3 separate regions of the Homo sapiens genome follow, and regions 1 and 3 are each linked to region 2. The links come from fine-mapping of genetic effects on gene expression. A gene starts in region 2. Each other region holds a variant in brackets. All regions are shown on one strand. Distances are between the middles of the regions. Region 1 overlaps CERS5 (ceramide synthase 5). Region 2 holds the start of CERS5 (ceramide synthase 5). Region 3 overlaps FAM186A (family with sequence similarity 186 member A).

Region 1 (5,000 bases), 37 kb before region 2:
TGGAGCTACTGTCACAGGGACTTTTTGTGCAGGTGGTCACATCTTCTTCCTCTGAGCTGCTCTCCACATCACTGCGATCATCCTTCGATACCTGGGTGGGATGAGACCAAAGACAGAAAAGTGAGGAAAGAACTGTAAGACACCTAAGCTCAGAGACCCAGGTGTGGGCACTGTGTTCCCAGTCTGGTCTGCTTTCTGATGACATCTAACTCAAAGAAGTATTGTCTGGACTATGGCTACTGTTGTGACTATGCTTTACCTGCTTTCTAGTTTTCTCCCTTGTCATCTCCAATTCTGTTCTCTGTGGAATTGAAGCTACTTTGGTAGAGGAGTGTGTCTTTCAGGACCAGCCTAAGAGAACTGACATCATTCACTGAGACCTGGTTTAGGTTTCAGACACCCTTTCTCTTCTTCCACTTCAAAGAACAGGGAAGGCCAACACGAACAATACGTATGACTGTCAGCAATGCTTCTATCTTCTGGTGGTTGTGGACAATGCATTTATTCGTATTGGTTATGCTGTTTTGCTTTATCCCCAAAGCTGATCCATAACAGGCCTTTTTTAGTAGTTTCCCACTCCTGGGCTCAACTACCACTATCCTATGACACTGTTTTCCAATCTTCTTCCCTTTCCCAATAGCAAGATCACTTTTCTTATGAAACTTCAGCATCCCTGGCTGGGCGTGGTGGCTCACGCCTGTAATCCCAGCACTTTGGGAGGCCGAGGCAGGCGGATCACAAGGTCAGGAGTTTGAGACCAGCCTGAGCAACATGGAGAAACCCTGTCTCTACTAAAAATACAAAAATTAGCCGGGTGTGGTGGCGCGCACCTGTAATCCCAGCTACTCAGGAGGCTGAGGCAGGAGAATCTCTTGAACCCCGGAGGTGGAGGTTGCAGTGAGCTGAGATCGTGCCACTGCACTCCAGCGTGGGCGACAGAGTGAGACTCCATCTCAAAAAAAAAAAAAAAAAAAGAAAAAAAAAAAGAAACTTCAGCATCCCCAAGATACACAGTATAGTGAAAACACAAATGGATTGGCAGTCAATGAGAAAAGAATCCCAGTTCTAATCATGCTACCATCTGTGAATGCTTATTAACCTGGGTTTTTTTGTTTTGTATTATTTTCAAATGAAGCATTTGGATTACAGCAGCATTTCCTAATCTAAACTATCCTGCATATCAAGCAAAGTATTTCAATTTCTCCACCATGAGCCAGGCACAGTGGCTTACACCTATAATCCTAGCACTTTGGGAGGCTGAGGGAGGAGGACAGCTTGAGCCCAAGAGTTTGAGACCAGCCTGGGCAACATGGAGAGAGCCCTGTCTCTACAAAAAATAAAAAATGACAAAATCAGTTGGGCATGGTGACATGCACCTGTAGTCCTAGCTACTTGGGAGGCTGAGGCAGGAGCATCTCTTGAGCCCAGGAGGTCGAGGCTGCAGTGAGCCATGATTGCGCCACTGTACTCCAGCCTGGGCAATGGAGCAAAACCTTGTCTCTAAAAAAAAAAAGGGCCGAGCATGGTGGCTTACGCCTGTAATCCCAGCACTTTGGGAGGCTGAAGTGGGCGCATCACCTGAGGTCGGGAGTTCGAGACCAGCCAGACCAACATGAAGAAACCCCGTCTCTACTAAAAATACAAAAAAATTAGCCAGGCGTGGTGGCGTATGCCTGTAATCCCAGCTACTCAGGAGGCTGAGGCAGGAGACTCGCTTGAACTGGGCAGGCAGAGGTTGCAGTGAGCCAAGATCACGCCATTGCACTCCAGCCTGGGCAACAAGAGCTAAACTCTGTCTCAAAAATAAATAAATAAAAATTAAAAAAAAAAAATTACCCTGGACTCTAATAGTAAAGAACAGAAATCCAGTGAGACCTGTGTCGGACTTCTGACCTCCAGAACTGAAGGATAATAAATGTGGTTTAAGTAAAGGAGAGAAGGAAGTGAAAAGGAACACAGCTGTAACAACTGTTGCCAAGGAGGTGGGCATTTGCTTTGGATCAGCTCCTTGAATTTGTGTTGGATGGGTCTTCTACAGTTGATTATAGCTGTTGGCCTCTGAACTTAGATGACTAACTGATTACCTGACCTTTAGGAAATTTCCACTAGAGGGCAGAGTGTCTCTAGATTTGAGGTAAACAGAGACTCAAGAAAAACAAAAAAAAGTAGACTCAATTCTTGCCTCAGTTTAGGAAAAAATCTGGCAACTGCAGCTCTAGTCAATAATGGCCCCGAAAAGTCAGGAGAGAGGGCATGCTCTGAGACAAACACAAGGGAACAGAAAGGAGAGCAGGAGGAAAGAGAACCACATTCAGATGGACATGCCTCACTGAATACTAGAAGCACAGATACACTTACATGCAAGAGATGAAACTGTCCAGCTCCCGCCAGGCATAGAAAAAAGGAAGGAGGTGAGGAAAGAGTGGA[G/A]AGTACAGGGTCTAATCCTTCCTGGACAGGTCACCTAGTCAGGAAAGAAAAGCAGGAGAGAACAGAGATGTCCAGTAGCTACAGCAAGATGCACAGGCACACTGAGCAAGTTCTGAGCCAATGGCAGCTATAAGGAATAATGATGCAGGAGATCATCAATATCTAGGCCACATTCCATCACTTGGTCCTAGTATCAGTACCTGCTCAAGCAGAGCCCCTCCCACTTGGGATTCTGTATTCCTTTAGGCTGAAATCCCTAGCCCTTTGACTACAGTCTGACTGCTTCAAAACTTGCAAAGTTCAATTATGAGTTTATCATTAAGTGGCACCTTTCTTTCGCTCTTGGCATAAGATGGGTATTTGAAACACTACATACCCATTCACTTAGGACACTTGCCTCATACACTAGTGGGGTGAGGTGGGTATTTAGTTCCTTATATAAACCATATCTTGAATATCACAGCATGGTCACCTTGTGGTGGCTTGTGAACTACCACACACCACTTCTAGGCAACTTAACAATCTGCTTTTATACAGTTTATATGGTTCTGCATATGATTTCCTTTGAAAAGGGCCCCATGTCAAAAAGAAAAATATGAAATCCACTGAAGCAGGTAGGTAAGGGGTAGGAAATGGTTGAGGCCATCTCTTAAAAAACTCTTAACCCTATCATCCTTTAACAAAAGCCATTCCTAAGGGACAGGAAGAAGGTAGAACTTTCCTCTTGCGTCTAAGTCACATCTTAAAAGGTAAAACAGGCAGGCCAGGTGCGGTGGCTCACGCCTGTAATCCCAGCACTTCGGGAGGCCAAGGTGGGCAGATCACAAGGTCGGGAGTTAGAGACCAGCCTGGCCAACATAGTGAAACCCCGTTTCTACTAAGAATACAAAAATTAGCCAGGCCTGGTGGCATGCGCCTGTAATCCCAGCTACTAGGGAGGCTGAGGCAGGAGAATCGCTTGAACCCAGGAGGTGGAGGTTGTGGTGAGCCAAGATCGTGACATTGCACTCCAGCCTGGGCAACAGAGCGAGATTCCATCTGAAAAAAAAAAAAAAAAAAGGTAAAACAGGCTTGGTGTGGTGGCTCACACCTGTAATTCCATCGCTTTGGGAAGCCGTGGTGGGAGGACTGCTTGAGGCCAGTAGTTGGACATTGGCCTGGGTAACATAGTGACACCCTATCTACAAAAAATAAGAAAATTAGCCAGGCGTGGTGGTGCACACCTATAGTCCCAGCTACTTGGGAGGCTGCAGTGGGAGAATCCAAGCCCAGGTGTGAGGCTGCAGTAAGCTATGATCATGCCACTGAACTCCAGCCTGGGTGACAGAGCAAGACCTTGTCTCTAAAATAAAAAAGGCAAAACACTTACCGAAGAGGCGAAGACTTTGGAGCCCTAGGCTTTTTGCTTGGCCTGCTTGAGTAGATGGGGCTCACCAGGTTTGATGGAGAGAGAACGTCTGTTGAGTAATCCCTATCTTCCATACCCAAAAGAAAGAAGCCATCTTTCATCCTCACCTTTCCCCTGATCAAGGCTTTCAAAGCAATCCGTGCAATTAGGTAGGACCAGATGACATGCAGAAGCTGTAGGGTCAGCAGCAGGCCATTGAGGAGCCACCATGAAGCATAAGGCCCGATTATCTCCCAACTCTCAAAGAGGGTCGTGTTCAGAATCCTAGAAGAGGGAGGCCAATAGTCAGATTCTAGAGTCAAAGCTCAGCAGACAGGGATGAAGCTGAGTCCTGGGGATGCAGAGCCCTGTGTGTTTTCCTACCAGCCCTTTTATCAGCTGAAGTTCCAGGGACCGTCATCCACAGTAAGAAAATAAAGAAAGGGAGGAGCCTGTTGTGTTTTCTATCCTTAGGGACAGAGAAAGATATATAAATCTTAGGAACTGATGGATTAAGTCACATTATTAATCACTTCAAATATCCAGAGTTTCACGAAATTAGGACAGCAGTGGGACTCTAATCCTATGAATGACTGAGCTCCTCAGGCACATATAGGATAGGACAGTAGGTAGCTGATTCCCATAGAGCAGTGAATGTAAAAGTGAAAGGAGACAGGGAGAGAGAGGAGAGGGAGGGAGGGAGAGAGAGGAGAGGGAGGGAGAGAGAGAGGAGGGAGGGAGAGAGAGGGGAGGGAGGGAGAGAGAGGAGAGGGAGGAAGAGAGAGAGAGGAGAGGGAGGGAGAGAGAGGAGGACAGGGAGGGAGAGAGAGAGGAGGGAGGGAGAGAGGGGAGGGAGGGAGAGAGAGGAGAGGGAGGAAGAGAGAGAGAGGAGTGTGTGTGTGTGTGTGTGTGTGTGTGTGTGTGTGTGTGTGTCAGGGTTGGGACCAGAGCAGGAACACAAGCAAGAAGGGACTGAGAATTGTATCAACAGTGCAAAAGAAGTCAAAGGAATTACTTAGGCATAAAATGAGGACTGTTCCTCAGAGATGAGTCAGTCCTGAGAAGCCAACCAAGCCGGGTACTCTGAGTCTGGATCCGACCTTGCTAGAAATACGGTCTGAGGCAGCAGAGGTCCTATGAGAGTCCACAGAAGGTCAGCACAGGCTAAGGTAAAAGCAGGGCAATA
Region 2 (10,543 bases):
CCCATCCACCTGTACTCCTCTGACACTGGAGCACCATAGAAACACTCAGATAGAATTCCCACAGGTAAAGGATCCCTTCCAGCAGCTCTGCCAGGGGATATATGTCTTCAGCCATCTGAGGGAACACTTTGGAATCTCAAGAGATACGTAAGTTTATATAAAATGGGTGTTTATAAGCAACAAAACTATTTCCTCTTACCACTAACATGGGGAAATTTCCATATTGGCACATATTTATATGAAAAGCAGAGATGTTTTTCTATGAAAATCACCTTTTAAAAAAAAATTTGTCCTGACTTGTGTATTTTCCTTTGTAGTGATTACATTGCCTTCCTCCTTTTTTTTTTTGGCCCTCATATACAGAGACTATGGAAGAGAGTACCTGGATCTAGTTTATTCCAAAGACAGACAAGCAGTTTGTGCCTCCACTCCAGGATGACTAACTACAACGATTACACGTAAAAAGACAAAACAAGGCCGGGCGCGGCGGTTCACGCTTGTAATCCCAGCACTTTGGGAGGCCGAGGCAGGCGTATTACGAGGTCAGGAGATCGAGACCTTCCTGGCTAAGACGGTGAATCCCCGTCTCTACTAAAAATACAAAAAATTAGCCGGACATGGTGGCGGGCGCCTGTAGTTTCAGCTACTCGGGAGACTGAAGCAGGAGAATGGCGTGAACCCGAGAGGCGGAGCTTGCAGTGAGCTGAGATCGCGCCACTGCACTCCAGCCTGGGCGACAGAGCGAGACTCCGTCTCAAAAAAAAAAGAAAAAGAAAAAGAAAAAAAAAAAAACCTTGCTACACTAAGTTCCTGAGGGCCAAGGAAAGCCATTTAGATCTTTGGGTTTCATTTGCTTCACTTAAGCATCTTTATTTTTGCACTTGAACGTCTGGCAGAGCATTTTGATGATGATGATGCACAAATACTACGAATAAATGGATGCGTGACTAGCTAAATAGAACACAAGATTTTGAAAGACTTGAGTCAAAAACAGTAGGCAAATCAAAGAAGCAATCCCAAACAGATGCTATCTTTCAGAAATTAACAGATTATTTCACCTGCAACATATTCCCATCCTAGAAAGGGCATTCCTGCATTACAATCATTTATGCTTGGATAAAGGCAAAACGAACAGATGTCCAAGAACCACCCTCATTACCTGAGGCCTATGGCAGAAACATGTCTCCTTTCTTGGAGTCTGAGTAGACTTGATCAAAATCACCCACAGGTATAAATTCACATTATAATATCACACACCAAAGCCTCAGTGAATATCTTTATCTTGGACAAACATATGATCCATTCACTTAAAGGTGAAATCATGTGGTTGAACAAAGTATACTGCAATTCTGCTAAACTCATTTAGAAGCTGGCTCAAGGCCGGGTGCGGTGGCTCACGCCTGTAATCCCAGCACTTTGGGAGGCAGAGGCGGGCGGATCACTTGAGGTCAGGAGTTACAGACCAGCCTGGCCAACATGGCGAAACCCCGTCTCTACTAAAAATACAAAAAGTAGCCGGGCGTGGTGGCGCGTGCCTGTAATTCCAGCTACTCGGGAGGCTGAGGCAGGAGAATCGCTTCAACAGGGGAGGCGGAGGTCGCGGTAAGCCGAGATCGTGCCATTGCACGCCAGCCTGGGCAACAAGAGCGAAACTCTGTCTCAAAAAAAAAAAAAAAAAAAAGAAAAGAAAAAAGAATCTGGCTCAATATAGCTGTCCTCTGATAAAGCCCTGTGGCTCTCCTCCATCCCTTCGAACACACTCCTCCTTCCATTTCAGGCCCCAAGGCCTGTTCTGCAACTAATCTGACATCTTTCCATTACTTTGGAAGCCTAGGGCTCCACCACACCCTATCCCAACCAGATTTCTACCCTCCTACCAACAAACGTGCATGAGTTGACATACCAAACCAACTCTTAGGGCCAAACTAATCCTGTTCCCCCCAATTCTCGGAAACTCAAGCGTCCTAACAAATCTTAAGAGTCTGATGAGTCCATTCCTTTCCCTTGGAACGTCTGGCCCTTGCGTTGACCCCTCGGCTTCCATGGTCACAACTAGCTCTGGTTCTCCTGGCCCCTTCCTATCCCTCTCTTCGGGGCCTCTGCCAGAGCTCACACTGAACCTGTTTCCTCATCTGTAGGACCCTTGGAGGTTGGGAGGAGGCCTATATGACCCCCCCAATCCAACTCCGGATCTAACATTGAAGGGGCCCAGCATTCCCCTAGACCCTCACTCTTTCTCTTGCCCACGCCCCAAACTCCTTCTCCATCTAGGCTACCACCTCGCCCACGCGCCTAGCATCACCCGCCGCGGCCCAAGCTCCCCCAGCCCCTGCTTCCGGGCTTTCCTTGCAGTTCTGCTTCCGGCCCTCGGCCCTTCCCACAGCGGGGCGCCCCCGGCCCGCGCCCGGCCCCCGAGCCGCTCGCTCCCGGGCTCTCACCGCTCGAAGAGCAGCCTCACGAAGAAGATGCCCGCCGCCAGCGGGAACACCGAGAGGATGTGCCGGCCGCGGGGGTAACCGTAGCCGTCGGCCGGCCCCTCCAGATCAGCCCAGCTCACGTTCTCGGGTAGCCAGAAGCGCTCGCTCCACAGCCAGCCCCACAGCAAGCTTAGGGGTCCCTGCGCTGCTGTCGCCATCTTACGCCCACCCCGAAGCCACCGCCGCCACAAGCGTCAGCTGCCGCCACAGCCAACGGAACCCGCGGGGAGGCGGCCCCAGGGCGGGGCCCGGCCGGCGGCCACCCCCTTCCGGCCCCTTCTGGTCACTGCCACGGATCCGCCCGCCTCCCTGGCAGGGCCGGGCCTCTTCACCGCCCATCTCTCCTCCCGGCCCACTTCCCTCACTGCAACCCGGGGACCGCCTCCGGGGATCCACGCCCCTTCCCGAGCCTCTGACTCGCCCAGCCCGGCCCTGGGACCACGCCTCGGGCGGCCCTGGGCCCGCCCTCTTTTGCTGCTGGTCTAGGCCACGCTTCTACTCCTCCCTCACTCTTCCATCCAGCTACGGCCACACCCCTTATTTCAGGCCTAGCTCCTTTACGGGGACATTCTCCTTTCTCAGCCTGTTGGAATCGAATCCGTTCCGGCTCCCACCCAGGCGGTACCTCTGTCTCCACTCCCGGAGGCCAGATCGATCTCTCAGGTCAGGGCTTCTCTTGGATGTCAGCTGGTCCTGCCCACTACTGTCCGCCACTAGAGTTCTTTTCGCTCCCAACCTTTTCTTCCCTTCGTGCCCCGTGACCTCAGCCTACTTTCACTGCTTTATCCCTTAAAAATTAGTCACTTTTCCTCAGAAAAAATGGACTTAACAGTTTACAAAAGGCCGGGCGCGGTGGCTCACGCCTGTAATCCCAGCACTTTCAGAGGCCGAGGCTGGCGGATCACCTGAGGTCAGGAGTTCGAGACCAGCCTGGCCAACATGGCAAAACCCCGTCTCTACTAAAAATACAAAAATTAGCTGGGCCTGGTGGCGCTGTGCCTGTAATCCCAGCTACTCGGAAAGCTGGGACAGGAGAATCGCTTGAACCTGGGAGGCGGAGGTCGCAGTGAGCCGAAATCGCGCCATTGCACTCCAGCCTGGGCGACAGACCAAAGACTCCGTCCCAAAATAAAAATAAAAAAAGTTTACAAAAATCCTTTTATTCTTCTCTTGGGGAAAAGGAAATGGAAGAAAAACAAAGTGAAAAGGGAAGCACTCAAAAAGTATACGTAAAGGCAGGCCGGGTGTGGTGGCTCACGCCTGTAATCCCAGCACGTTGGAAGGCCAAGGCGGAAGAATCACCTGAGGTAAGGAGTTCGAGACCAGGCTGGCCATGGTGAAACCCCGTCCCTACTAAAAATACAAAAATTACCCGGGTGTGGTGGTGCATGCCTGTAATCCTAGCTACTCGGGAGGCTGAGGCAGGAGAATTGCTTGAGGCGGAGATCACAGTGAGCCGAGACCACGCCATTGCCCTCCAGCCTAGGCAACAGAGCGTCTCAAAACAAAAACAAACAAAAAAAGGCCGGGCGCGGCTCACGCCTGTAATCCCAACACTTTGGGAGGCCGAGGCGGGCGGATCATGAGGTCAGGAGATCGAGACCATCCTGGCTAACACGGTGAAACCCCATCTCTATTAAAATACAAAAAATTAGCCAGGCATGGTGGCGGGCGCCTGTAGTCCCAGCTACTTGGGAGGCTCAGGCAGGAGAATGGCGTGAACCCGGGAGGCGGAGCTTGCAGTGAGCCCAGATTGCGCCACTACACTCCAGCCTGGGCGACAAAGTGAGACTCGTCTCAAAAAAAAAAAAAAAAAAAGTATATCTAAAGGACCTAAAGGCAAAACAAAATAAATAGCCAATGTTTGATGAGGTTTCCTGTGTGCCAGGCACTGCATGGAACATTTTACACAGGTTATTTCACTCCTTCACCCTATAAAGTTGATCTTGTTATCCCCACTGGATAAGTAAACTGAGGTCCAGTGAGGCCAAACAACTTGCCCAAAGTTATGTAGGTAAGAAGTGGTAGCTAGTGTTAAGTCAAGTTTAATCTAAAGCTGCCTCCTTACATATTTAAGTTCGGCCTAAAGGTTTTCTGTACATTGTGAACTGTAACAAGTGGAGGTGTAAATCGAACGTAGACCACACCAGTGCCAATCACTGAATTTTGGCCAATCAAATGTAGCCAACTGTTCCAACCACGTTCAAATGAGACAAACGCTGATCTGTAACCAATCTGGTTGTTTCTGTACCTCACTTTCATTTTGCTGTCCATAAATCTTCCACCACGTGAATATGCTGGGTCTCTGTGGATATGCTGGGTCTCTCTGAATCTGCTGTGATTCAGGGGCTGCCCAATTTGAGAATCATACATTGCTCAAACTCCTTTAGGCTGGGCACGGTGGCTCACGCCTGTAATCCTAGCACTTTGGGAGGCCGAGGCAGGCGGATCACAGGTCAGGAGATCGAGACCATCCTGGCTAACATGGTGAAACTCCGTCTCTACTAAAAATACAAAAATTAGCTGGGCGTGGTGGTGCGTGTCTGTAGTCCCAGTTACTTGGGAAGCTGAGGCAAGAGAATCGCTTGAACCCAGGAGGCGGAGGTTGCAGTGAGCTGAGATAGCACCACTGCACTCTATCCTGGGCAACGGAGTGAGACTTTGTCTTGGAAAGAAAAAACAAAACAAACAAACAAACAAAAAACTCCTTTAAATTTGGCTGTTTTGTTTGTTTGCATGTTTTTTTGTGAGAAGGAGTCTCACACCCAGGCTGGAGCGCAGTGGTGCCATTTCTGCTCACTGCAACCTCCACCTCTGGGTTCAAGAGATCCTCCCTTCTCAGCCTCCCGAGTAGCTGGGACTACAGACACGTGCCACCACACCCGACTAATTTTTGTATTTTTTGATAGAGCCTGGGGTTTCACCATGTTGGCCAGGCTGGTCTCGAACTCCTGACTTCAAGTGATCTGCCTGTCTCAGTATCCCTGTTGGGAATGAAGTTTTTGGTGTTGCAAAAAGAAAAGAAAAGAAAACAAAACAAAAACAAAAAAACACGGGAACAAATGATCTCTCAGCAAGGAGAGCTTTACTTTCTGCAGAAAGGGTGCTGCTACTCAAAAGCTGTCTAGCCATGAGAGCACACCGAACAAAGGAGACAGAGTTATTTATAATCTGAGGTGTCTACCCTACTGCTGTGTCCATTTTCCATTGGCTGGAATAGGACCTCACATTTTACACTTTACCTGATTGGCTATTAGTTTAAAACTTTTAAAATTGGTTAAGGGGAACAGAACAAAGAAAGAAAAGGAAGTTGCCCAGGGATCATTAAGGAAGCATCACCAAATAAGGAATGGCATGCACTGTGGGCTGGGGCTTGTCTAGTTCTGTCCAGGCATGCAGGAGCAATCTAGGACAGCTGATTTGGAATACACACACACACACACACACACACACACACACACACACACATACATACACACACACACACACACACAGTGGATAGCAATCTTATAGTAAGAAATTGTGACTTTTTATAATCTTTGAAGAACTTTCCGATTTCTCACACTCCCAAAGTGCTGGGACTACAGGCGTGAGGCCACTCCGCCCAGCCTAAAGTGTTTTTTTTGTTTGTTTGTTTTGTTTTGTTTTTTGTTTTTTGTTTTTTTTTGAGACGGAGTCTCGCTCTGTCGCCCAGGCTGGAGTGCAGTGGCGGGATCTCAGCTCACTGCAAGCTCCACCTCCCGGGTTCACGCCATTCTCCTGCCTCAGCCTCCCAAGTAGCTGGGACTACAGGCGCCCGCCACTACGCCCGGCTAATTTTTTGTATTTTTAGTAGAGACAGGGTTTCACCGTTTTAGCCGGGATGGTCTCGATCTCCTGACCTCGTGATCCGCCCGCCTCGGCCTCCCAAAGTGCTGGGATTACAGGCGTGAGCCACCGCGCCCGGCTTTTTTTTTTTTTTTTTTGAAACGGAGTCTCGGTCTGTAGCCCAGGCTGGAGTGCACTGGCGGGATCTCGGCTCACTTCAGCCTCCGTCTCCTGGATTCAAGCTATTCTCTCCCCTCAGCCTCCCGAGTAGCTAGGATTACAGGCAGGCTCCACCATGCCCTGCTAATTTTTGTATTTTTAGTAGAGATTGTGTTTCGCTATGTTGGCCATGGAACTCCTGACCCAAGTGATCCACCCGCCTGGGCCTCGCAAATGGCTGGGATTACAGGCTTGAGCCACCACGCCCGGCCGAATTTTTTTTTTTTTTTTTTTTTTTTTTGAGACGGAGTCTAGCTCTGTCGCCCAGGCTGGAGAGCAGTGGCGCGATCTCGGCTCACTGCAAGCTCCGCCTTCCAGGTTCACGCCATTCTCCTGCCTCAGCCTCCCTAGTAGCTGGGACTACAGGCGCCCGCCACCACACCCGGCTAATTTTTTTGTATTTTTAGTAGAGACGGGGTTTCACTGTATTAGCAGGATGGTCTCAATCTCCTGACTTCGTAATCCGCCCACCTTGGCCTCCCAAAGTGCTGGGATTACAGGCGTGAGCCACTGCGCCCGGCCTAATTTTTGTATTTTTATGAGACGAGGTTTCACCATGTTGGCCAGGCTGGTCTTAAACTCCTGACCTCAGGTGATCCGCCCGCCTTGGCCTCCCAAAGTGCTGGGATTACAGGTGTGAGCCACCGAGCCCAGCTGGTTAGCTTCATTTTAGTTCAGTGCCTCTCAAACTTTAGCATCAGCTCAGATATCAGCTTGTCCCATCTCGCATAAAGAGAGTTTCTTTAAGTTCCTGGACCCCATCCAGAGAGATTCTGCTTTCATGAGTTTGGGGGTAGGATCTATGAATTTGCATTTCCCATTTCTAACAAACTCATAGGTGATGCCACTGCTGCTGTTCTGTGAACCACTGCCTGAAGCCACTTCCATCCAAACCCAGGAATAGCTTCATGGTAACTACACTATATTAAGATACAGTTTTAAAGGGCTGGGCAGGGTGGCTCGCGCCTGTAATCCCAGCACTTTGGGAGGCTGAGGCAGGCGGATCACCTGAGGTCAGGAGTTCAAGACCAGCCTGGTCAACATGGCAAAAATCCACCTGTACAAAAATATAAAAATTAGCTGGGCATGGTGGCAGGTGCCTGTAGTTCCAGCTACTCGGGAGGCTAAGGCAGGAGAATCGCTTGAACCCGGGAGACGGAGGTTGCAGTGACCCGATTGTGCCACTGCACTCCAGCCTGGGCAACAAATGGAGACTCCATCTCAAAAAAAAAAAAAAAAAAAAAAAGAAAAGATATATTTTAAAAGGAAGTAATAAACCCAGCCCCATGGGATTTTCAATCAGCATCTCAAGGAACAGAGGACATACTAACTTAGCATACAGGAACCACCAGTACACAATGATCTTGGTCTGAGACCCTATTCATGATTTTTTTTTTTTTTTTTTTTTGAGATGGAGTCTTGCTCTGTCACCCAGGCTGGAGTGCAGTGGCGCCATCTCAGCTCACTGCAACCTCTGCCTCCCGGGTTCAAGCAATTCTCCTGCCTCAGCCTCCCAAGTAGCTGGGATTACAGGTGCACGCCACTACATCTGGCTAATTTTTGTATTTTTAGTAGAGACGGGGTTTCGCCGTGTTGGCCAGGCTGGTCTCCAACTCCTGACCTCAGGTGATCTGCCCACCTTGGCCTCCCAAAGTGCTGGGATTACAGGCATGAGCTACTGTGCCTGGCCCCTGTTCATGATTCTATCCCCAGAAAAATGAGCATGTACCAATTCCCAGTCTCTTGGCTGTTGGGAAACATTGCTAATGAAATATGTAATGCAAAGCAAATTTACTTTCACCTTGCCCAAGAGTGATCCAGCAAGTCACTGGAACCAAGCTGGCCTTGTAGCAGTCATGAGCAGAGCCTCCTTAACCATCATAAGTCCCAAGCTGGCCCCTTTTTCTGCTTTACCAACAGAAAAGCTGTCATCACCCTATAGTCACCAGTGATATACCAGGTCCAAACAAGGTAGCCTTCATTTAGAGAGCTAAAAGAACAAATGATTAATGCTTTTTCTGTTTGGCTGCTTTTGTTTTCTAAGAATGTTCAGTGTTATCTGGTCATTCTTTTGGCTAGGACATCCTTTCTTTATATTGACTCTGGAGCTATTCCTTGTTCCTACTCTGTGTACCCATGATACGTCTATATCTTAGCCCTTGAAAGGCATAGAAAAGAGTTTTTTTGTTTTTTTTTTTAGATGGAGTCTCACTCTGTTGCCTAGGCTGGAGTGCAGTGGTGCAATCTCGGCTCACTGCAGCCTCCACATCCTGGGTTCAAGTGATTCTCCTGCCTCAGCCTCCTGAGTAGCTGGGACTATAGGCACGTACCACCATGCCCAGCTAATTTTTGTATTTTTAGTAGAGATGGGGTTTCACCATGCTGACCAGGCTGGCCTTGAACTCCTGAGCTTGTGATCCACCTACCTCAGCCTCCCAAAGTGCTGGGATTACAGGTGTGAGCCACCGCACCCAGTCAAAAAGAATTCTTCTGAGGGTAATCTCAGTCCCCAAGGGGTGGCCCACTCAACTGATATCCACAGGTACTTAAACTTTTTTGTATAAAGTCAGTGCATAATGTGAGTACCATGTGGATGGATTATAGTAAAACGCAAGTCACAGAAGTTCAAGCCAGGATTGGATATTTTATATCAGTGGGAGCTTTTGGATTAACGTGAATATGGATTTTTTTTTTTTTTTTTTTGAGATGGAGTTTTGCTCTTGTTGCCCAGGCTGGAGTGCAATGGCATGATCTTGGCTCACCGCAACCTTTGCCTTCCAGGTTCAAGCGATTCTCCTGCCTCAGCCTCTCTAGTACCTGGGATTACAGGCACCTGCCACCATGCCCGGCTAATTTTGTATTTTTAGTAGAGACGCGGTTTCTCCATGTTGGTCACGCTGGTCTGGAACTCCCAACCTCAGGTTATCCTCCCGCCTCTGCCTCCCAAAGTGCTGGAATTACAGGCATGAGCCACCACACCCGGCTTTTTATTTTTTTGAGACGGAGTTTCGTCGTTGTTGCGCAGGCTGGAGTGCTATGGTGTGATGTCCGCTCACTGCAACCTCTGCCTCCCGGGTTCAAGCGATTCTCCTGCCTCACCCTCCTGAGTAGCTTGGATTACAGGCATGTGCCACCACGCCCGGCTAATTTTGTATTTTTAGTAGAGATGGGTTTTCTCCATGTTGGCCAGGCTGGTCTCCAACTCCTGACCTCAGGTGATCCGCCCGCCTCGGCCTCCCAAAGTGCTGGGATTACAGGCATGAGCCACTGCGCCCGGTCTGAACATGGATCTTTAAATGACTCAGTGGGGGCAAGAGCAGAAAGTAGTATCCTACCAACCACTCAGAAAACCAGGCAAGACTCTAGAAAACACAGGGATCCTGGAAAATGTAACAGATGACTCAAAAAGCATGCCTTAACTCTCCAAGGAAATCCACATTTCAACCCTACCAATTAAAAAGAAAGCCTGAACAATTGGAACAGTTGCCTCTACAGGCAAGGATATCAATCAATCAAAAATGCATCTGCCCACTTGGTGTGAACAGTGATTTTTTTTTTTGAGACGAAGTCTAGCTCTGTCGCCCAGGCTGGAGTGCGGTGGCGCGATCTTGTCTCACTGCAAGCTCCGCCTCCCGGGTTCACGCCATTCTCCTGCCTCAGCCTCCCAGGTAGCTGGGATTACAGGCGCCCGCCACCACGCCCGGCTAATTTTTTGTATTTTTAGTAGAGATGGGGTTTCACCATGTAAGCCAGGATGGTCTTGATCTCCTGACCTCGTGATCCGCCCGCCTCGGCCTCCCAAAGTGCTGGGATTACAGGCGTGAGCCACTGCACCCGGCCAAACATTGATCTTAAAACAGCAACAACAACAAAAAAAAAAAAAAAAAAAAAGAAAAGAAAAAAAAGAAAAAAGCGCCAGGCACGGTGGCTTACACCTTACGTAATCCCAGCACTTTGGAAAGCCGAGGTGGGTGGTTCACGAGGTCAGGAGTTTGAGACCAGCCTGGCCAACATGGTGAAACCCTGAGTCTACTGAAAAT
Region 3 (10,941 bases), 200 kb after region 2:
CGAGGCGGGTGGATCACCTGAGGTTGGGAGTTCAAGACCAGCCTGGCCAACATGGTGAAACCCTGTGTCTACAAAAATACAAAAATTATTCAGCTATGATGGTGGGTGTTTGTAATCCCAGCTACTCAGGAGGCTGAGGTGGGAGAATCACTTGAACCTGGGAGGCAGAGGTTGCAGTGAGCTGAGATCACGCCACTACACTCCAGCCTGGGTAACAGAGAGCGACTCTGTCTCAAAAATAATAATATTGAGAGGCCGAGACAGGTGGATCACTTGAGGTCAGGAGTTCGTGACAAGCCTGGCCAACATGGTGAAACCCCATCTTTACTAGAAATACAAAAATTAGCCAGCATGGTGGTGGGCATTTATAATCCCAGCTACTCAGGAGGCTGAGGCAGGAGAATTTCTTCACCCGGGAGGTGGATCCTGTAGTGAGCCATGATTGCGCCACTGCATTCCAGCCTGGGCAACAGAGCAAGACTCTGTCTCAAAAATAAATAAATAAATATTTTAAATAATAATAATAAATTTAGAAATAAACTTACCCAAGGAGGTAAAAGACTTGTTGTTTTCACTACAAAATGTTACTGAGAGAAATTAAAGAAAACACAAGTAAATGGAAAGATATCACATGTTTATGGATTGGAATATTTAATATTGTTAAGATGTCAATACTACCCAAACCAATCTACAGATTAATGCAATCCCTATCAAAATCCCAATGGCTTTTTTTTCTTTTGCAGCAATAGAAAAATTCATCCTAAAATTTACATGGAATCTCAAGGGATCCTGAATGGCTGAAACAATCTTGAAAAAGAATAACAAAGTTGGAGATCCCACATTTTCTGATTTCAAACTTATTCCAAAGCTACATTAATCAAAATAATGTGGTACAGGCATAACGACAGACATATAACCTGATGGAATAGAATAGAGAGCCCATAAATAAACACCAAGTTAACAGTATGTGTATAGTATAGTATATTCATAGCATAAGGTTAAATTATTTTCCATAAGGATTCTAAGGCCATCCAATGAGGAAAGGACAGTCTTTTAAAAAAAAAAAAAACACACACAAATGTTGGTGGGAAAACTGAATACCTACACATGAAAGAATGAAGTTGGATCCTTATCTTATATCATATAAAAAATTAAACTCAAAATAGATTAAAGACCTAACACTTATAAAACACTTAGAAGAAAACATAGGAGAAAGGCTTCATGGCATTGGATTTGGCAATGATTTCTTGGTGACATGACACAAAATCACATGCAACAAAAGTAAAAATAGATAAATGGGCTGGGCACGGTGGCTCACTCCTGTAATCCCAGCACTCTGGGAGGCTGAGGCAGGCGGATCACGAGGTCAGGAGATCGGACCATCCTGGCTAACATGGTGAAACCCCGTCTCTACTAAAAATACAAAAAAAATTAGCCAGGCATGGTGGTGGGCGCCTGTAGACCCAACTACTCGGGAGGCTGAGGCAGGAGAATTACTTGAACCCGGGAGGCAGAGGTTGCAGTGAGCTGAGATCGAGCCACTGCACTCCAGCCTCAGCCTGGGCGACAGAGTGAGACTCCGTCTCAAAAAAAAAAAAAAAAAAGATAAATGGACTATATCAAAGTTAAAAACATTTGTTTGTCAAAGGACAAAAATCAACAGATTGAAAAGTCAACCTAGGAAATGGGAGAAAATATTTGCAAATTGTATATCCACTAAGGGTTAATATCCACAATATATAAATAACTTGTACAAACTCAATGTCAAAAAAAGAAAAACCAAAAAACCCAAATAGGCTGTGCACTGGTGGCTCACCCCTATAATCCCAGGACTTTGGGAGGCTGAGGTGGACAGATCAGTTGAAGTCAGGAGTTTGAGACCAGCCTGGCCAACACTGTGAAACCCCATCCCTACTAAAAATGCAAAATTTAGGCCGGGCGCGGTGGCTCACGCCTGTAATCCCAGCACTTTGGGAGGCCGAGGAGGGTGGATCATGAGGTCAGGAGATCGAGACCATCCTGACTAACACAGTGAAACCCCGTCTCTACTAAAAATACAAAAAATTAGCCGGGCGTGGTGGTGGGCGCCTGTAGTCCCAGCTACTCGGGAGGCTGAGGCAGGAGAATGGCGTGAACCCGGGAGGCGGAGCTTGCAGTGAGCAGAGATTGCACCACTGCACCCCAGCCTGGGCGACAGAGCGAGACTCCATCTCAAAAAAAAAAAAAAAAAAAAAAAAGCAAAACTTAGCCAGGCATGGTGGCACACTCCTGTAATCCCAGCTACTTGGGTGGCTGAGGCACAAGAATCACTTGAGCCTGGGAGGTAGAGGTTGCAGTGAGCCGAGATTGTGCCACTGCATTCCATCCTAGGCGACAGAGTGACACTCCATACCCCCCAAAAAACAAAAACAAAAACCCAAATAAACCAATTTTAAAATGGGCAAAGGATCCAAAAAAGATATACAAATGGCCCAAAAATATATGAAAATATGTTCAACGTAACTAGTAATTAGGAAAATGTAAATCAAAACCACAATGATATACTACTTCATACCCATTAAGATGGCTACTATGAAAAAAACAGAAAATAACAAGTGTGGGTGAGGCTGTGCAAAATTGGAACCCTGTGCACTGCTGGTAGGAATGTAATATTGTGCAGCTGCTGTGAAGAAAAGGATGACAGTTCCTCCAGATATTAAAAATAGTATCACTATATGATCTAGCAATTGTTCTCTGTGTATACATCCAAAAGAATTATAAGCAGGGTCCCTAAGAAATATTTGTACACTCATGCTCATAGTGTCGTTATTCACAATAACCAAGAGGTAGAAGTAACCCAAGTGCCCATTGACAGATAAATGGATAAACAAAATGTGGTATATATTTATATATATACACAATGGAGGCCAGGCACAGTGACTCATGCCTGTAATCCCGGCACTTTGGGAGGCTGAGGTGGGCAGGTCACTTGAGGTCAGGGGTTTGAGACCACGCTGGCCAACACGATGAAACCTCACGTTGCACTAAAAAACACAAAAATTAGCCAGGCATGGTGGCGGGTGCCTGTAATCCCAGCTACTTGGGAGACTGAGGCAGAAGAATCGCTTGAACCCAGGAGATGGAGGTTACAGTGAGCCAAGATTGCACCACAGCACTCCAGCCTGAGCAACAGAGCGAGACTTCATCTCAAAAAAATAAAATTTAATTCAATTTAATTTTTTTTTTTGAGGCAGAATCTTACTCTGTCACCTAGGCTAGAGTGCAGTGGCATGATCTCGGCTGACTGCAAACTCCACCTCAGGGTTCAAGTGATTCTCCTGCCTCAGCCTCCAGAGTAGCTGGGGTTACAGGCGCCTGCCTCCATGCCCAGCTAATTTTTGTATTTTTTAGTAGAGACGGGGTTTCACCATCTTGGCCAGGCTGGTCTTGAACTCCTGACCTCATGATCCATCTGCCTCTGCCTCCCAAAGTGTTAGGATTACAGGCGTGAGCCACCGTGCCCGGCCAACTTAATTTAATTTTAAAATATACATAATAGAATGTTATTCAGCCTTAAAATTGAAGGATATTTTGACATACACTACAATATGGATGAACCTTGAACAGACTATGCTGAGTGAATAAGCCAGTCATAAAAAGACAAATACTTTATGATTCCACTTAAATGAGGTATCTAGAATAGTTGAATTCATAGAAACTAAGTACAGTTGTGGTTTTTAGGGGATAAGGAGAAAGGGAAATGGATATTGTTGTTTAATGGATATAGAACTTCAGTTTTGAAAGGTGAAATAGTTCTGACTTTGGTTGCAAAATAATGTATGGCAATATATATTCACACTTAAAACTATTGTACTATATACTTAAAAATAATTAAGGCAGTAAATTTTATGTATATTTTACCACAATTAATTTTTTTTTTTAGACGGAGTTTCGCTCTTATTGCCCAGGTTGGAGTGCAATGGCATGATCTTGGCTCACGGCAACATCGGCCTCCTGGGTTCAAGCGATTCTCCTGCCTCAGCCTCCCAAGTAGCTGGGATTACAGGCATGCGCCACAATACCCAGTTAATTTTGTATTTTTAGTAGAGACGGGGTTTCACCATGTTGGTCAGGCTGGTCTCAAACTCCTAACCTCAGGTGATCCACCTGCCTTGGCCTCCCAAAGTGCTGGGATTACAGGCGTGAGCCATCGTGGCTGGCCCAATTAATTTTTTTTTTAATTTAAAAAGGAATAATCAAACGTTAAGTATGGAAATACTGGAATCAGAAAAAGAGGTGATGCAGTTGTAGCAAATCTAACTTAAGTCAAGAACACAGGAGACGGGAGACAAAGTTGGCCAAGCCAAGTGATAAAGAATAACATCACAACTAATACATAGTATGGTGGTTAAGAAATAAATACGCCAGGTGCAGTGGCTCAAGCCTGTAATCCCAGCACTTTGGAAGGCCAAGGAGGGTGGATCATGAGGTCAGGCGTTCAAGACCAGCCTGGGCAACATAGTGAAACCCCCGTCTCTACTAAAAATACAAAAAATTAGCCGGGCATGGTGGTGGGCACCTGTAATCCCAGCTACTTGGGAGGCTGAGACAGGAGAATTGCTTGAACCTGGGAGGCAGAGGTTGCAGTGAGCCAAGATTGTGTCACTGCATGCCAGCCCGGGCGACAGTGTGAGACTCTGTCTCAAAAAAAAAAAAAGAAATAATACTAGGCCGGGCACGGTGGTTCACATCTGTAATCCCAGCACTTTGGGAGGCCGAGGCGGGTGGATCACTTGAGGTCAGGAGTTGGAGACTGACCTGCCCAAGATGGTGAAACCCCATCTCTACTAAAAATACAAAAAATTAGCTGGGCATATTGGTGGGTGACTGTAATCCCAGGTACTTGGGAGTATGAGGCAGAGAATTGCTTGAACCCCGGAGGCAGAGGTTACTGTGAGCCGAGATGGTGCCACTGCACTCCAGTCTCCTGGGCGACAGAGCAAGACTCCGTCTAAAAAAAAAAAAAAAGAAAAAAGAAAGAAAGAAGGAAGGAAGGAAGGAGGAAGGAGGGAGGGAGGGAGGGACGGAGGGAGGAAGGAAGGAAGGAATGAAAGAAAGAAAGAAAGAAAGAAAGAAAGAAAGAAAGAAAGAAAGAAAGAAAGAAAGAAAGAAAGAAAGAAAGAAAGAGAAAAGAAAGAAAGAAAGAAAAGAAAGAAAGAAAAACTAGGCTGGGCAACGGTGGCTCACACCTGTAATCCCAGCAGTTTAGGAGGCCGAGGTGGGCATATCACGAGGTCAGGAATTCAAGACCAGCCTGGCCCACATAGTGAAACCCCGTCTCTACTGAAAATGCAAAAATTAGCC[G/A]GGTGTGGTGGCACGCACCTGTAGTCCCAGCTTCTTGGTAGGCTGAGGCAGGAGAACTGCTCAAACCCGGCAGGCAGAGGTTGCAGTGAGCCGAGACCACACCATTGCACTCCAGCCTGGATGACAGAGTAAGACTCCATCTCAAAAAAACAAAACAGAAAAAGAAATAATACTAATAGCTCACAAACTTTTCCAAAAAGTTGAAGAGGAAGGAGCAATTCCTGACTCATTCTTTGATGTCAGCGTTACCCTGATATCAAAATCAGACAGATGTAAAAGAAGAAAACTACAAACCAATATCCCTCACCTCATGAAAATAGTCACAAAAAATGCTTCATAAGATTTTCATACCATCTCACACCAGTTAGAATGGCAATCATTTAAAAGTCAGGAAACAATAGGTGCTGGAGAGGATGTGGAGAAATAGGAACACTTTTACACTGTTGGTGGGACTGTAAACTAGTTCAACCATTGTGGAAATCAGTGTGGCCATTCCTCAGGGATCTAGAACTAGAAATACCATTTGACCCAGCCATCCCATTACTGGGTATATACCCAAGGGATTATAAATCATGCTGCTATAAAGACACATGCACACGTATGTTTATTGCAGCATTATTCACAATAGCAAAGACTTGGAACCAACCCAAATGTCCAACAATGATAGACTGGATTAAGAAAATGTGGCACATATACACCATGGAATACTATGCAGCCATAAAAAATGATGAGTTCATGTCCTTTATAAGGACATGGATGAAATTGGAAATCATCATTCTCAGTAAACTATCGCAAGAACAAAAAACCAAACACCGCATATTCTCACTCATAGGTGGGAACTGAACAATGAGAACACATGGACACAGGAAGGGGAACATCACACTCTGGGGACTGTTGTGGGGTGGGGGGAGGGGGGAGGGATAGCACTGGGAGATACACCTAATGCTAGATGACGAGTTAGTGGGTGCAGCGCACCAGCATGGCACATGTATACATATGTAACTAACCTGCACATTGTGCACATGTACCCTAAAACTTAAAGTATAATAATAATAAAGAAAGAAAGAAAGAAAGTTCTAAATAAAAATCTTTATAGAAATTAAAAAAAAAAGATTTTCAAAAATTCTGGGACAGATAGGTGACCAATAAAATAAAATAGAAAATAGAAACAAACAATATCCTTAAAAAATAGCATCATGAAAAAGTGGGATTTACCCTGGTATGCAAGGCTGATTCAAAATTTGATAATTTCTAAATGTAACTCACTATGTCAACGGATTAAAGAAGAACCATTTATCGCCTCGGTATATACAGAAAAAGAAGTTGACAAAATTCAACATTCATTCATGATTTCTAAAAGAAGCTCGATAATAAATGAGGAATAGAGGGTAATTTCCTCAACCTGATAAAGAGCATTTACAAAACATTTACAGCTAGCATCATACTTAATGGTAAACGTCTCAAGTGCTCTAAAGGTTCTGTTCTAATCACTTCTGCTCAACATTGGATAAATGTCCTAACCAATTCAATAAGGTCAAAAAAAGAAATACAGGAAAATGGATTGGAAAGAGAGAAGCAACATGGTTTCTATTTACAACAAAAAGTTTGTCCATGTAAAAACTCCCAAAGAATTTACCAAAGAGGCCAGGAGCAGTGTCTCACACCTGTAATCCCAGCACTTTGGGAGGCCAAGGCTGGCAGGTCACTTGAGTACAGAAGTTCAGGACCAGACTGGCCAACATGACGAAACTCCCTTTCTATCAAAAATACAAAAATTAGCCGGGCGTGGTGGCATGTGCCTGTAGTCCCATCTACCTGGGAGGCTGAGGCATGAGAATCGCTTGAACCCAGGAGGCAGAGGTTGCAGTGAGCCAAGATCGCTTCTCTGCACTCCAGCCTGGGCCACAGAGTGACACTCCATCTCAAAAAATAAATAAATAAATACAAATAAAATAAAACAAACCAAAAACCATTTATTTACACTAGCGATATACAATTACAAACTGAAATTTGGCCGAGTGTGGTGGCTCATGCCTGTAATCCCAGCAATTTGGGAGGCCAAGGTGGGTGGATCACCTGAGGTCAGGAGTTTGAGGCCAGCCTGGCCAACATGGTGAAACCCTGTCTCGACTAAAAATACAAAAAATTAGCCAGACATGTTGGCACACACCTATAATCCCAGCTACTTAGGAGGATGAGGCAAAAGAATTGCTTGAACCCGGGAGGCAGAGGTTGCAGCGAGCCGAGATTGCACCATTGCACTCCAACCTGGGCAACAAGAGCGAAGCTCTGTCTCAAAAAAAAAAAAAAAAAAGTAGCCAGGTATGGTGGTGCATACCTGTAATCTCAGCTAATCGGGAGGCTGAGGCAGGAGAATCGCCTGAACCTGGGAGGCAGAGATTGCAGTGAGCCGAGATTGTGCCACTGCACTCTAGCCTGGGTGACAGAGGGAGACTCCATCTCAAAAAAAAAAAGAAAAAGAAAAAGAAAAAGAAATTGAAATTTAATAAAACAGTGTCACAGGATCCTATGGGTGTCACTTTGCCAGCCAGAAACCTCTGTGGCCAGCGACGCCTCTGCTTGAGTTTTGCTCATGCCCACTGGGCTCATTCCACCTACTAGGCCCAGCAAGCTGCCCTCAGATCGTGATACCGGCCCGGATCCCATGCCTGCCAAGGGTGAGCCAGGCATGGAGCACCGAGGGGTGTGTGAGCAAGCAAGTGCAGGGTCTGGCCACTGTGCACCCCCACTGTAGCAGCAGGGCAGGCATCTCCAGGTGCTGGCACAAGCACTGGCTCTGGGAGAGGCTGTGGCTGGACCAGACATACCACAAGCAGGTTCTGCTGCAGGCACCAGTGTCTGGATGAGGGAAACTCAGTGGTGCCCAAAAGCTCAGAGGTCTGGGCCCTCAGAAGGATCACCACTTTTCACTCACACGGTCCGGGGGCATGTCACAACCCATAGCTCAGTGAGCAAGCTGGGGATGTGTTACAGCTCTTTTAGCTCCTGCTGTTCAGTCCCAAGTTCCTGTCTCATGTCTAGGAAGAATGAGTTTACATGGACAACTGAAGGGTGAGCAAGGTGGAGAGGAGCTTTACTGAGCAACAGAAGAGCTCTCAGCAGAGAGGATACCTGAAGTGAGTAGCTCCTATCCGCAGGCAAGTCATCCCAACAAGGGTAGAGGAGACTTGAAGTGGGTAGCTGCTATCCAAAGGCAGGTAGGCCTGATGAGTATAGGCCACTCAAAGTGGATAGCTTCTGTCTGCAGGCAGGTAGTCCCTAGGAGTCTCTGAGTCTGGCTAAGTCTGGGGTTTTTATGGGCTCAAAAGGGAGGAAGTGCATGCTGACTGGTCCATGAGCAGCCATGGTGGGCCTGGTAAAAGTACCATCTGATCGGCCAAAAGGCATCAAGGAAGTTCTCACTCTGGTCCTGGACTCCACCCTAAACTGGCAATGTGGGTCAAACCTCCTTTTACCTCTCTCTCTCTCTCTCTTTTTTTTTTTTTAGACAAGGTCTTATTCTGTTGCCCAGGCTGGAGTTCAGTGATGCAGTCACAGCTCACTGCAGCCTAGGACTCCTGGGCTCAAGAGATCCTTCCTCCTTCACCTCCCAAGTAGCTGGGACTACAGACGAGTGCCACCATGGTCAGCTAATTATTTTTTATTTTTATTTTTTTTAGAGATGGGATCTCACTGTGTTGCTCAAGCTGGTCTGAAACTCCTGGGCTCAAATGGTCCTCCCACCTCAGCCTCATGAGTGCTTGGGATTATAGGCATGAGCCACTGCACCCAGCAGAACTGTGTTTAAAGATGCACAATTTAAAGGGGCAATCTTCTGGAAGTGGAAAAAACACAAGGTTGGAAGAAACACCATTTGGCAATTAGGTAGTAAAAAGGGGGAAAAAAGAACTACAATCATCAGGACAGTATGGTATTGGTGTAATGACGGACAAATACATGAATGGAATAGAATAGAGTGTTTAGAAAAGGACTCACATACATGTGGTCAATTAATTTTTGACAGAGGTGCAAATGCAACTCAGTAGAGAAAGGACAGTCTTTTTAACAAGTGGTGTTCAAATAATTGAATATCCACAAACCAGAAGTGAAAAACAAGCTTTTATTCATATCTTGCACAATATTTCAAAAATTTAGTCAAATGAATCTATGAGCTAAATATAAAATTTAACACTATAAAACTTCTAGAAGAAAACATGGGAGAAAATACGAACTTGGGTTAAGGCAATGATTTCTTTGATATGATAACGAAGGCACAACCAATGAAAGTACAACACAAGGCCAGGCGCAGTGGCTCACGCCTGTAATCCTAGCACTTTGGGAGGCCGAGGCAGGTGGATCACCTGAGGTCAGGAGTTGGAGACCAGCCTAGCCAACATGGTGAAACCCTGTCTCTACTAAAAATACAAAAATTAGCCGGGCGTGGTGGCTGGCACCTATAATCCCAGCTACTTAGAAGGCTGAGGAAAGAGAATTGCTTGAACCCGGTGGGGGCAGAAGTTTCAGTGAGCCAAGATCGTGCCACTTCACTCCAGCCCGGGCAAAAGAGCAAAACTCCACCTCAAAAAAAAAAAAACAAGAAAAGAAAGAAAGTACAACATGATACATTAGATTTCACAAAAATGTAAGACTTCTGCAATATGAAAGATACTGTTAAGAAAATGAAAAGTCGGCGAGGCGAGGTGGCTCATGCCTGCTCATCCCAGCACTTTGGGCGGCCAAGGCAGGTGGATCACCTGAGGTCGGGAATTTGAGACCAGGCTGACCAACATGGAAAAACCCTGTCTCTACTAAAAATACAAAATTAGCCGGCGTGGTGGCCACATGCCTGTAATCCCAGCTACTCTGGAGGCTGAGGTAAGAGAATTGCTTGAACCGGGAGGCGGAGGTTGCAGTGAGCCGAGATTGCGACATTACACTCCAGCCTCGACAACAAGAGCGAAACTCCATCTCAAAAAAAAAAAAGAAAATGAAGTCAGCCGAGCACGGTGGCTCACGCCTGTAATCCCAACACTTTGGGAGGCCGAGGTGGGTGGATCACGAGGTCAGAAGTTCAAGACCAGCCTGGCCAAGATGGTGAAACCCTGTCTCTACTAAAAAGTACAAAAATTAGCCAGGTGCAGTGGCAGGCGCCTGTAATCCCAGCTACTCGGGAGGCTGAGGCAGGAGAATCGTTTGAACCCCAGGAGCAGAGGAAACAGTGAGCCGAGATTTCACCACTGCACTCCAGCCGGGGAGACAGAGTGAGACTCCATCTCAAAATATATATATACATATATGTAAATTGTATATATATATATATACACATATGTAAATTGTATATATATATATACACATATGTAAATTGTATATATATATATATACACATACATATATATACACACACACATATATATATAAAATTAAATTAAAAAAAAGAAAATGAAAAGTCAAGCCACAATCTGGGAATAAATATTTACAAATCATATCACTAGTGGGAATACAAATTGGCACAACTATTCTGGAAGAAAATGTGTCAGTGCTTAAAAGAACTTCAGGTACACTTAAATTTTAACCCAGCAATCCCATTTCTAGGAATAT

What was found. PIP is the estimated chance that this variant, and not a neighbour inherited with it, causes the effect.
Region 1: its variant is the best candidate, but not a certain one, in a credible set for the expression of CERS5 in blood mononuclear cells (TOPMed, PIP 0.76).
Region 3: its variant is the best candidate, but not a certain one, in a credible set for the expression of CERS5 in amygdala (GTEx, PIP 0.86).

The regions. Positions count from the first base shown.
Region 1 is chr12:50,130,604-50,135,603 of GRCh38, forward strand. It overlaps CERS5 (ceramide synthase 5), which reads right to left. Exons shown (of 10, transcript NM_147190.5): 9 at 3,943-4,099; 10 at 1-91. Among named protein-coding and RNA genes, the nearest start is that of COX14, 21 kb to the left of the region's middle. The variant G/A (reference allele first, on the strand shown) is at 2,428.
Region 2 is chr12:50,164,663-50,175,205 of GRCh38, forward strand. CERS5 (ceramide synthase 5) reads right to left here and starts at 2,707. Exons shown (of 10, transcript NM_147190.5): 1 at 2,439-2,707. The coding sequence starts at 2,635. LOC124902931 (a long non-coding RNA gene) reads left to right here. Exons shown (of 2, transcript XR_007063304.1): 2 at 364-961. RefSeq lists enhancers at 2,054-2,193, 3,084-3,243, 3,295-4,056 and silencers at 2,334-2,483, 2,584-2,983.
Region 3 is chr12:50,367,911-50,378,851 of GRCh38, forward strand. All of the region lies in intron 1 of FAM186A (family with sequence similarity 186 member A), which reads right to left. Among named protein-coding and RNA genes, the nearest start is that of FAM186A, 23 kb to the right of the region's middle. The variant G/A (reference allele first, on the strand shown) is at 5,344.